2 separate regions of the Homo sapiens genome follow, and region 1 is linked to region 2. Evidence: fine-mapped expression QTL. A gene starts in region 2. The other region holds a variant in brackets. All regions are shown on one strand. Distances are from middle to middle.

Evidence for each region. PIP is the estimated chance that this variant, and not a neighbour inherited with it, causes the effect. A credible set is the group of variants that fine-mapping cannot tell apart.
Region 1: its variant is the best candidate, but not a certain one, in a credible set for the expression of PLEKHA8 in naive CD8 T cells (Schmiedel 2018, PIP 0.57).

What each region holds. Positions count from the first base shown.
Region 1 is chr7:29,961,013-29,966,012 of GRCh38, forward strand. All of the region lies in intron 2 of SCRN1 (secernin 1), which reads right to left. Among named protein-coding and RNA genes, the nearest start is that of FKBP14-AS1, 25 kb to the right of the region's middle. RefSeq lists an enhancer at 1-442. The variant C/T (reference allele first, on the strand shown) is at 1,980.
Region 2 is chr7:30,025,594-30,031,123 of GRCh38, forward strand. PLEKHA8 (pleckstrin homology domain containing A8) reads left to right here and starts at 2,819. Exons shown (of 14, transcript NM_001197026.2): 1 at 2,819-3,209. The coding sequence starts at 3,170. It overlaps FKBP14 (FKBP prolyl isomerase 14), which reads right to left and starts at 1,109. Exons shown (of 4, transcript NM_017946.4): 1 at 719-1,109. The coding sequence starts at 915. FKBP14-AS1 (FKBP14 antisense RNA 1) reads left to right here. Exons shown (of 3, transcript NR_187577.1): 3 at 1-1,648. RefSeq lists enhancers at 1,365-1,514, 3,421-3,540 and a silencer at 2,931-3,260.

The DNA.
Region 1 (5,000 bases), 65 kb before region 2:
TGTAATTTTGGAAACTGAGGAACTCTGTGCTGGAGGATCTTATTTCTTTTTTTTTTTTTTTTTAATTTATTTTTTTATTGATAATTCTTGGGTGTTTCTCACAGAGGGGGATTTGGCAGGGTCATGGGACAATAGTGGAGGGAAGGTCAGCAGATAAACAAGTGAACAAAGGTCTCTGGTTTTCCTAGGCAGAGGACCCTGCGGCCTTCCGCGGTGTTTGTGTCCCTGATTACTTGAGATTAGGGAGTGGTGATGACTCTTAACGAGCATGCTGCCTTCAAGCATCTGTTTAACAAAGCACATCTTGCACCGCCCTTAATCCATTTAACCCTGAGTGGACACAGCACATGTTTCAGAGAGCACAGGGTTGGGGGTAAGGTCACAGATCAACAGGATCCCAAGGCAGAAGAATTTTTCTTAGTGCAGAACAAAATGAAAAGTCTCCCATGTCTACTTCTTTCTACACAGACACGGCAACCATCCGATTTCTCAATCTTTTCCCCACCTTTCCCGCCTTTCTATTCCACAAAGCCGCCATTGTCATCCTGGCCCGTTCTCAGTGAGCTGTTGGGCACACCTCCCAGACGGGGTGGTGGCCGGGCAGAGGGGCTCCTCACTTCCCAGTAGGGGCGGCCGGGCAGAGGCGCCCCTCACCTCCCGGACGGGGCGGCTGGCCGGGCAGAGGGGCTCTTCACTTCCCAGTAGGGGCCGCCGGGCAGAGGCGCCCCTCACCTCCCGGATGGGGCGGCTGGCCGGGCAGGGGGCTGACCCCCCCACCTCCCTCCCGGACGGAGCGGCTGGCCGGGCGGGGGGCTGACCCCCCCACTGGAGGATCTTATTTCTTACTCTTCTAGTCTTAAATACAGTGAACTTGACATATGGAGATGATGGCTGGATGGGACTGACTGACAAGAAGATGGAGAGAGGCTAAGTGGACAAGTTGAAGGGAGAACCGCCTGGAAAGGGGGATCAGTTGGCAGGTGGGTGAGTGGATGAATGAGGAGTCCACACGACTTTTTCCATGGTTTTTGCATGTGTCCAGAGGTTGCCCTAGAAACCTCATACTTGAGAGTGTTGAGGTCCCAGGAAATCATTTTCTGAGAATATAACCACCTAGTATATAATTAGTTTCATATAATTATTAAACACTGTAATTATTAAATAATATAATTATTTACATATAATTAAATTATACAATTATTAAATATAATTATGTATATGTAATTAAATTATATAATTATTAGATAATTGTTTATATATAATTAAATTATTATATAATAAATTATATAATAGAGGGTTATATTCTCAGAAAATGATTTCCTGGGACCTCAACACTCAAGTATGAGGTTTCTAGGGAAACCTCAGGACACATGTTTAAAATGTCATGAAATGGGCCAGGCATGGTGGCTCACGCCTGTAATCCCAACACTTTGGGAAGCCAAGGTGGGTGGATCACTTGAGCTCAGGAGTTTTGAGACCAGCCTGGCCAACATGATGAAACTCTGTCTCTACCAAAAATACGAAAATTAGCCGGCTATGGTGGCACATGCCTGTAATCCCAGCTACTTGGGAGGCTGAGGCAGGAGAATTGCTTGAACCCAGGAGGCAGAGGTTGCAGTGAGCTGAGATCATGCCACTGCACTCCAGCCTGGGTGACAGAGTGAGACTGTCTCAAACATAAAATAAAATAAAATAAAATAACATAAAATAACATAAAATGTCATGAAATGGCTGAGGAATAGATGGGTTTTTATGAAAAGTTCTTACTCTTCATAGTTTAAAAAAGTCTGTATTTTAATAGTTGCTTGTATAAAAGTTACATGATAGTAATTGTGGCTCCTAGACCTAAATATGGAAAGAACCCATCATTCTGTACTTGGTACAAGTATAGGAGATGGAGACAGATGTAACTGTAAGGGAACTAAAGGGGTAAGAGTAAGTTTGAAAAGCAGATTCAGTAGTATGTGATGTGCCAAAGA[C/T]AGTTTTGGAACTGAGACCCGGAGTCACAGCAATTCTCATTAGTCAATTCTTTAAAAAAAAAAAAAAAATCCTTCTTCACAATGTTCTCCTTAAAGCTTTACAAAGTGCTTTCATGCATCAGCTCACGTGTGTCTCACTAAAGCCTGTAATGCAGGCAGAGGGGGTATTATGATCTCTATCTGGCAAATAAAGAAACTGAGTTTCAGAGAGGCTCAAAGGCCCAAGACACTATAAAGGGAGAGGCAAAACACGAACCTAGGACCCCTCTCTCCTGGGCCAGAACTCATCCTCCTAGTTTCAGGTGGTTGTAAATTTCAATTGACATGCATAGAGGAGTATCAGGCTAAAGGGAGGAGTGGATATTGGTGTTGAGGCCTGGAAGGATAAACAGGAGTCTACCAAGTAGATGAGAGGAGGGGAGAAGAAGGATCTTCTCAGCAAAGGACAGAAAGAGCAAAAGCACAGAAAAATGCAAGTGTGTTATTTGTTCAAGAAAAGGCAAGCAGTTCAGTGTAGCTGGGGCCTAGGGTACAAGCTGAGAGGGCAGAGCTAACAATGAGAATAGAAAAGTAAGCAGGAAATTGTATAACCCTTACGGAGGTCAATTCTTATAAAAGCTTTACCCTATGACCCAATGATGCTACATTTGGAAGTACATCCAATGGTATCTACACATGCACAAAATGACTTATGTACAAGGTTCTCCACAGCTGCACTTTCTGGACTAGCAAAATACTGGAAGGAGTCCAAGCATCTACCAATAGAGCACTAATTAAATGAACTATGGTACATCTCCACAATGGATTACTATGTAGCTGTAAGAAAAAAATAAGGACAATCTCTATAGAAAAATCTTTAGAAAATGTTAAGTGAAAATAGGAAAGTGCAGAACTTTTCTGTAAGTTCAAAGTTATATATTAAAAAATCATGTTTAATAGTAGTATACATAATGTGCTGCATTCACACAAAACAATAGAAAATAAGGCCTGATATTCAGTTTTTTTGGATTTGCATAAAATACTTGAAGGATATGCATGAAATTAATAAGAGTTATACAGGATGGAGACAAGGGAGGAAGACTTCTTACTGTGAACCTTTTAAATATCATTCAATCTTTGAACCACATAAATATATGATTACCTATTCAAAATGAAAAATTACATTTTAAAATGTCTTTAGCCAAATGAGTTAAAAACTTATGTCTACACAAAAGACTGCACACAAATATTTATAGCAGCTATGTTCATAACTGCCAAACTTTAGAATCAACTAAGATGTCCTTCAGTGGGTGAATGGATAAATAACCTGGTATATCCAGAAAATGGAATATTGTTCAGTGATAAAAAGAAATGTGTCATCAAGCTTGGAAAAGACAGGAAGAAACCTTAAATGCACATTACTAAGTTTAAAAAAGCCAATCTGAAAAGGCTACACACTGAATGATTCCAACTATGTGACATTTTACGAAAGGCAAAAGTATGGACACAATAGGATCAGTGATTTCTGGGGGCTAGGGTGGGTGGGTGAATAGGTGGAGCACAGAACCTCTAGGACAGTAAAAGTATTCTCTATGATACTACAATGGCTTGTCATTATACATATAGGTATACCCACAGGATATCCAACACAGAGTATAAACTATGAACTTTAGTTAATAATACTGTATCAGGCCGGGCTCGGTGGCTCACATCCATAATCCCAGCACTTTGGGAGGCCGAGGCGGGTGGATCACTTGAGGTCAGGAGTTCAAGACAGGCTGGCCAACATGATGAAACCCCGTTTCTACTAAAAATACAAAAATTAGCCAGGCATGATGGTGGGCACCTGTAATCCCAGCTACTTGGGAGGCTGAAGCAAGAGCATCGCTTGAACCCGAGAGCTGGAGGTTGCAGTGAGCCAAGATTGTGCAACTGCACTCTAGCCTGGGCGACAAAGCTAGACTCTGTCTCAAAAAACAAAATATATATATATATATATACTGTGTCAATATTGGCTCATCAGTTGTAGCGAATGTACCACATTGATGCCAGACGTTACTAGCAGGGTAAACTAGAGGGCAGGGTAAGGGGCTGTTTGGGAACTCTCTGTGCCTTCTGTTCATTTTTCTGTAAACATAAAACTGCTCTAAAAATAGTCTATCAATTTAAAATAGAAAAGAATGAAAGAGAATAAAAGAAAGGAAAAGTGAGCAGGGTGCCAGTTGGGAAGAGTTCTGAATGGCATACAAATCAGCTTGGACTCTCATCCTGTAAACAAAACGAAACACTTTTCAGCAAGGGAGTGGTAGAGCTATCTATGTTCTGGGAAGAAAATTCTGGTAACCCTGTAGGGAGAAGAACCCAGGAGAAAGAGACCCAGGGACAAATGAGAAGATTGTAGCAGAAAAGAGATGGACTCAGTCTGAACGAGTCAGGGGCAGCGGGGAGGAGATGGACAAACAAGAGAGGGGGCAGCGGGACTCAGTGACAGCTGTCCCTGTGCATTGGGGATGGGGGAAGTGAGGGTCGACGTTTCCCGTGGGCTTCTAGTATAAACTACGTGGCCGACAATGCATATGTTGTTACAGCAACATATATGAGCTGGGGGAAATGAATTTGCTTTCTTACCCGTGAGGTTATTTCACCTGCAGAATATGCAAGTGGGAACGCAAAGAGGCAGCTCAAAACACAGGTATGGAACTCAGAAGAGAGGTCAGAGCTGCCTTAGAGGCTAATTATGGTATATATCACACTATACTTATGTATGGAAGGGGACAGGATTTAACCTAAATATATCTGAGTAATCATATACCATAGGTTAACTAGCAAAAGGAATCTAGCCTCGTCCTTAAAATAATTGTAACCATGAGAGTAAAGTAAGAGTTATGTAGCCTATCCTCCAAAAAAGAAAACAAATTTTTTTGAAATATTTATTTCAGACATGTTTATAAATGGCTTTGTGTGATTTTTGAAGTTAGTATGGCTACTTAACAAATTACCCCAAAATTTAGTGGTGTAAAACAACTTTTTTAATGCTCATGG
Region 2 (5,530 bases):
AATGAATGGAACCGATGCCTAATTGAAAATCATTAGGCTGTAAACCATTTCCATGTTCCAATTTCTTCGTTTATAGAACAGAAATGATAGTGTAACCACCTGAAAATCCTTCACCTAGACTTCCAAAACCACACCCACCTCATCAATGAAGTCTGACTCTCTAGAAAGAAGCAAATGACTGAAATCATGGTCCTGTGCCTTGACCAAAATACCATTCGTCAGAACAAAAGAAGTAGGTCAGTGAAACGGCATTAGTATATCCTTCAACAGGCAAATAAGTGATAGTGTAGTTTGCTTTTGAAGTCGCTGTGAAAAGTTTTAGGTGAACATCACCTACACCACATTAAAAATGGAATCAAGTCATTTTCTTTAAGAAATGGAGTTTGAGATATGAGAATTCTTTTGGGCTTTTTCTACTTATTGGCCAATTATACACCCAGATATATTTCTGCAATATTTCAAAGATTCTAGTTCTAATTTGTATAATAAAAAAAATTAACAGCCTTTTCCAGACCACATGTTTCCAACAAGACCTTCAAAGGCCTCGCTCGCTATATAAAACTGGCTTTAAACAATTTCCTTTCCCAAAGAAGGAAATAAGATATTTCGGTTTTGTAAAAGAGGCAAAACCAGGTACAGGCCACCTTTCCTGCTGGAGAGCTGGCATAAGTGAGTGGATTCTTAATTACTATTTTACCTGCGGGGCATAATTACTTACGTGGAGTGAAATAAGGAGCCGTCCTTTTCTAAGTAGCCTTCATAGTGGACCAACATCAAATCCCCTCCTTTGGTCTTGCGATGGCAGATGAATGGCTTCTGGAGAACTTCAATTTTCACTTCTGGTTCAGGGATCAAAGCCCCAATCAAAGAAGTGACGAACAGAGTCAAGACCGCGTTCCACAAGAAAAGCCTCATGTTGCTGAAGCAAGGAAAGAAGTCCCTACAAAAGCAGCGAAAGGTCCCTCGACTTCATAGATTTAAGAACGTAGTTCAAGGCTTACGGACAAGGGCTTCAGACAAGTTCAGGACTCCCCCTTCTTAGAAGACGTGGCACATTTACCACCAACTCTTTTCTCAAGGGTCACGAACCTACCTTTAAAGAGTTAAGCCCAAATGCCGGCCTGACTGGCTCTTATAACGCGGCCGCCTGGGAATAGCAGCCTCCCATTGGCTATTGGTGCTGTCCTTCAGGCAGCTCTCAAGCCAATGACGCTGCAACGATGGAATTTACAGCCCGGTAGAGCCGGGCAGCTGCCAAGCGGCGGATCATCCCTTGTGGTCCTAGAGCCCGGTGGATTTCAGCATTCAACCAGCGTGGATTTTGGGAGAGGGGCGGGGCGCAGAGCCAACCGGAAACTCCTCCGGCTGATTTATCTCTGTGAAGAACCCTGCTGAGAGACGTAGGAAGAGTCCCGGGGCCCTATGAAATCTTCGGGGTTCCAGGAAAGACTCGTTTACTCTCGCCGTTGGAGAGCGGCCCCCCAAGATGCCACAATCCTAGGATTTTGCTATTGCTTATAAACTGTAAAGACTGACATACTGCTTGAGGGTTCACAAAGCGCGTTCCCGTTGCATGAACCTCACTACACCCAGTAAGGCAGGTTCTTTTTTCCCATTTAAAAGAGAAGTAAATTTACACCAGGAGATATTAACTGTCCTGCTTAAGGTTGTTTGGCCCCGAAGCAAATGAGCTCTGCCTTCAAACCAGGTCTGATTCATTCCACAGCACCACGTCATGTTATGGCTGCTAATAATTTATCCCTTAAGTTACCTTACAGGGTAAATAATGAGTTTCGACTTGCAGACTTCCGCTTTAAAGAAGAAATGGTAATCATGGTTACGAATTACACAGCCTCATCGTAGTTTACATTTTCTAGTTTTACATTTTTTGCCTAAGTTCAAAAGTAATGCATGTTCATTGAAGTCATTTTGGAAGAAATTGGAAAGCACTAAAGTAAGATTTCCAGATAATATTGGGGAGTCGAATCAAGTTGGAATTTCAGATACATAACGAATAATGGTTTTGCATTTTTATTTACTAAATCAGGCAACTTTAAAGAAAAAGAAAGCTCGCCGATACCACCACCAGCCGCAAACAATCCTCTTAATATTTTGGTGCATGCTTCTGTGACATATACTTAAAGCGATTTAAATCGTATTGTAGTCTTTTCTCACCTCCTCTTTCCACTTAATCTGTAGTTAACATTTTTTCTGGTCTAATAACCTTAACACAGTGCATATCCGCACTCTATGTGCATAGGAATCCCCCTGAAGATCTTGTTTAAAATGCAGATTTTGATCTGGAGGTCTGGGGTGGGTGCAAGATTCTGCATTTCTAACAAGCTCTTAGGTGATGTCAGTGCTCCGGGTCAGTAGATCAACACTTCCATAGTGAGACCTTAGAGTCTGGACAACATCTGTTTACACTGGCCTCATAGTATTCTACCCTGAAATTCCAATAATCTCTTTACGCCCTGTTATTGGTTACCTCAAGTGTGTGAGATCAATTAGGCAGCTTTGGAACAAGAATAGGGACTAGAACTCAGGAGGTATCGTGAGAGGTCACGTAGACCCTCAAACGGCGGGCACCATTTACAGTCAGAACTGCGCTCCACACTTGTCTCAGGGGCCTCCCTCCTCCCGTCGCCTAGTCCGCAGTCCGCGTCTCGGGACTCAATTTCCCTGCGGGCCGTTCCCGCAAACTCCGCCCCGCCGCCGCTGCCGCGAAATCCCGGAGTGGATTTTGGGAAGGGGCGCGCGAGCGGCGCCCTGGGCATGCGCGAGCGCGTCCCGGGCCCGGCGAGTCGAGGGTTCAGGTGGTGCGCCGTGGCGCCGCCTGCGACCGGCAGCTCGTTCGCCGCACTTTGGAGGCTTCGGCTGCCCCTCCGACCCACGTAGGGCCCGGACCCGGGCCTCCTTGTGAACAGCGTGCCGGCTTCGCCCCACGGGTTCACCGGCTGGCTGGGCTTCAAGCGCCGAGGCCGCCGCAGTGACCCCGCCCCCGGGCCGAGGATGTGAGGCGGGCCGGGCGTCCCCACACCGGGCCCGGGCGCCGGGAGTGGGCGTCTGGGCAGCGCCAGGCGATGGCCCTGCTGCTGGTGCTCCTCGCCTCTTGGGGCCTGGGGCAGTGAGGGGGCCGGCGGGCGTGGGCCGAGTGGCCGCGGGCGCCATGGAGGGGGTGCTGTACAAGTGGACCAACTATCTGAGCGGTGAGTGGCCGTGCCGGGCCGGGGGCGCGCCGGGGGCCGGTCCTTTGTCTGCGCGGCTGGAGGGCGGTGTCTGGACCCGTCTTAGGGAGGGGGTCACGGCCCTTTCCTGAGGCCAGCGCGGAGCGGGAGTATTTCCCAAAGCAGTTCTCTCACGGGACCGTGTCGCCGTGCAGGACGACACGGCCCTCTCTTGGGGTTGGTTAAGAGCTGTGGCTGCCCTTTCGCTTCAAGGAAGGCTACAAAGACTGAGATTTTGGGTGACTTGAAAGGCACGGTGCTCTTGATGTCAGCGGGAGGAAGGCGCAGACGCCCCGCCGTGGGGTTCTCTGGGAATCTCTTGAATTTTGGCGAAGGAACCGTACTCCCTTGGCTCGCAGCTAGGTTGGAAGGTTTCAAAAGAATGCCAGCAGTAACCTGGAATTCCACAGCGGAAAGATCCTTTATCAAAGTCCTCAGTGCAAACACTTTCCCTTTGTCACCTTCAGAGTCATCTGCGTGCACACCAGGGTGTCAAGAGTCCCAACTCCACAGTTTCAAAGCTCTGCACAAGGTTTTTTATTTTCTCGTTGAGCATTTCCTTTTGTTTTACAGACTCAGAAATTACCGTTAAATGAATGCAAATATTTGCAACTTTCTTGCCGTGCCTTACAGATTGGCTTTAAAATAGTCCCCGCCCTTTTTTTCTAGTTTGTGGAGGTAAAAGCTTCATATCTTGAGAAGGTTGTAACTGTTCTACAGCTGTGAAAATTATTCAGAACGATCATTTTTGTCATGTGTGCAACTAGTATTTAATACAAGCCTACTATATGCTGGAAACTGTGCTAGCCACTTTTTTGGAAGTAAACTTTTTATCACAGAAAATGAATTAGGTCTTTAAAATTTTAAAGGCAGTGTGTTTGAAAGCAGAAATGTTCCCAGTATCCCTTAGAGTGGGTGAGAGACGTTTTCTTTCTTTTGTGGGATAGTTTTTAAAAGGTTGTAGTATGGTAATGCGCCGGGTGTTTTAAGAATGGGTGTGTGTGGGAGGATCAGTTGGCATACATAGTAACTTCGAGGAGGTCACACAGCACAGCCAAAGGTGCCCCTATTGGGCGTACCCAGAATCTCTTCCCTTTGCTTAGTGTAATTAGCAGTGAGTTCACCTGTTTATTTTTTTTCTGTAATCATTAATAGAGACTAAATGAGAAGAGGTTTTTCTTGTTTGCGTCAAGGACCTTCAGTGATGTCTGCAATTAGATTAGATGAGAATAACTCAAAGCTAGGCTTTGGTTTGGTGGATGACAGAGGCTGATCAACACTGCTAACCTAAGGGGAGGAGGCTCGACCTGGCAGTTTTCCTTCTGAGGTCTCTCTAAGCTCTCAGATGCATATACTTGAGTAAAATTTAGTTCCTGATCCTTCACTCCTTTCCATTACACACACTTTTTTTCATTCATCTTCAACATTCTTCTTTTTTTCCCATTCTTCCCCATCCCCAACTTTTTTTGTTGTTTTGTGGGGTTTTTTCCCCCTCTTTTCCTTCTCCTTTCTATATAGAAAGTTTAGTCTCTTGATACAGTAACTATTTCCTGGTAGTGAAATGCTTTTGCTGTTGTTGTTGCTGACTGTCCTTGTGTATCCTTCAATAAAGCAGAACTCTCTAGAAGGATCTTTTGGAATCTTTGTTATTTGATTCCTATCTGTTCTGTTGGAAAAGAGTCTACTTTTTTCTTCCCAAAGTAAGAGAAGTTAATGCTGTGAGTGGTGCTAGGGTGGAAACCCTGAAGAAGAGGGCACTGGAGCCATTGCCAGAGACAGCTGTCTCTACGTGATGCTGCTTGTTCCCTTAGCCCACGTGCCCCGTCCTTGTAGGCATACTGTTCATAGAAGCCCATCACACCACTGGGTATTTTCCAGATATACATAGAATGATGGTTCGGCATATTCTCTCCTTTTAGGAGATAAATTTACTTGGGAAAGAAGTGGTAATAGCCTAGGAGGATCACATGCATTCTTGTTTCCTCCACCCTCCACTTTTCTACTTGTTCTTCGGAAGTGAGCATGTTGTGTTAGTGACAAGTTACTTTTTCTTTTTCTGAAGCTTGTTTTAAAAAGTAACTTTTTTTTTCTTGTAGGTTTGCACATACTAACTTTAAAATACATACAATCCCAATCCAAGTTTTTGTTCATTCTGAATTTTTCTCCAAAGGTAGTACGTAACCCATGCCTCTGTATGGTTTGTGTATTTGTCATGCTGACAGCTTGATATGGGATGCCTTGTGTCAAATTTGAGTGAAGTTAGGAAATCAGTTTATCACTTGGTCTTTTGAATCCTTAGGGGA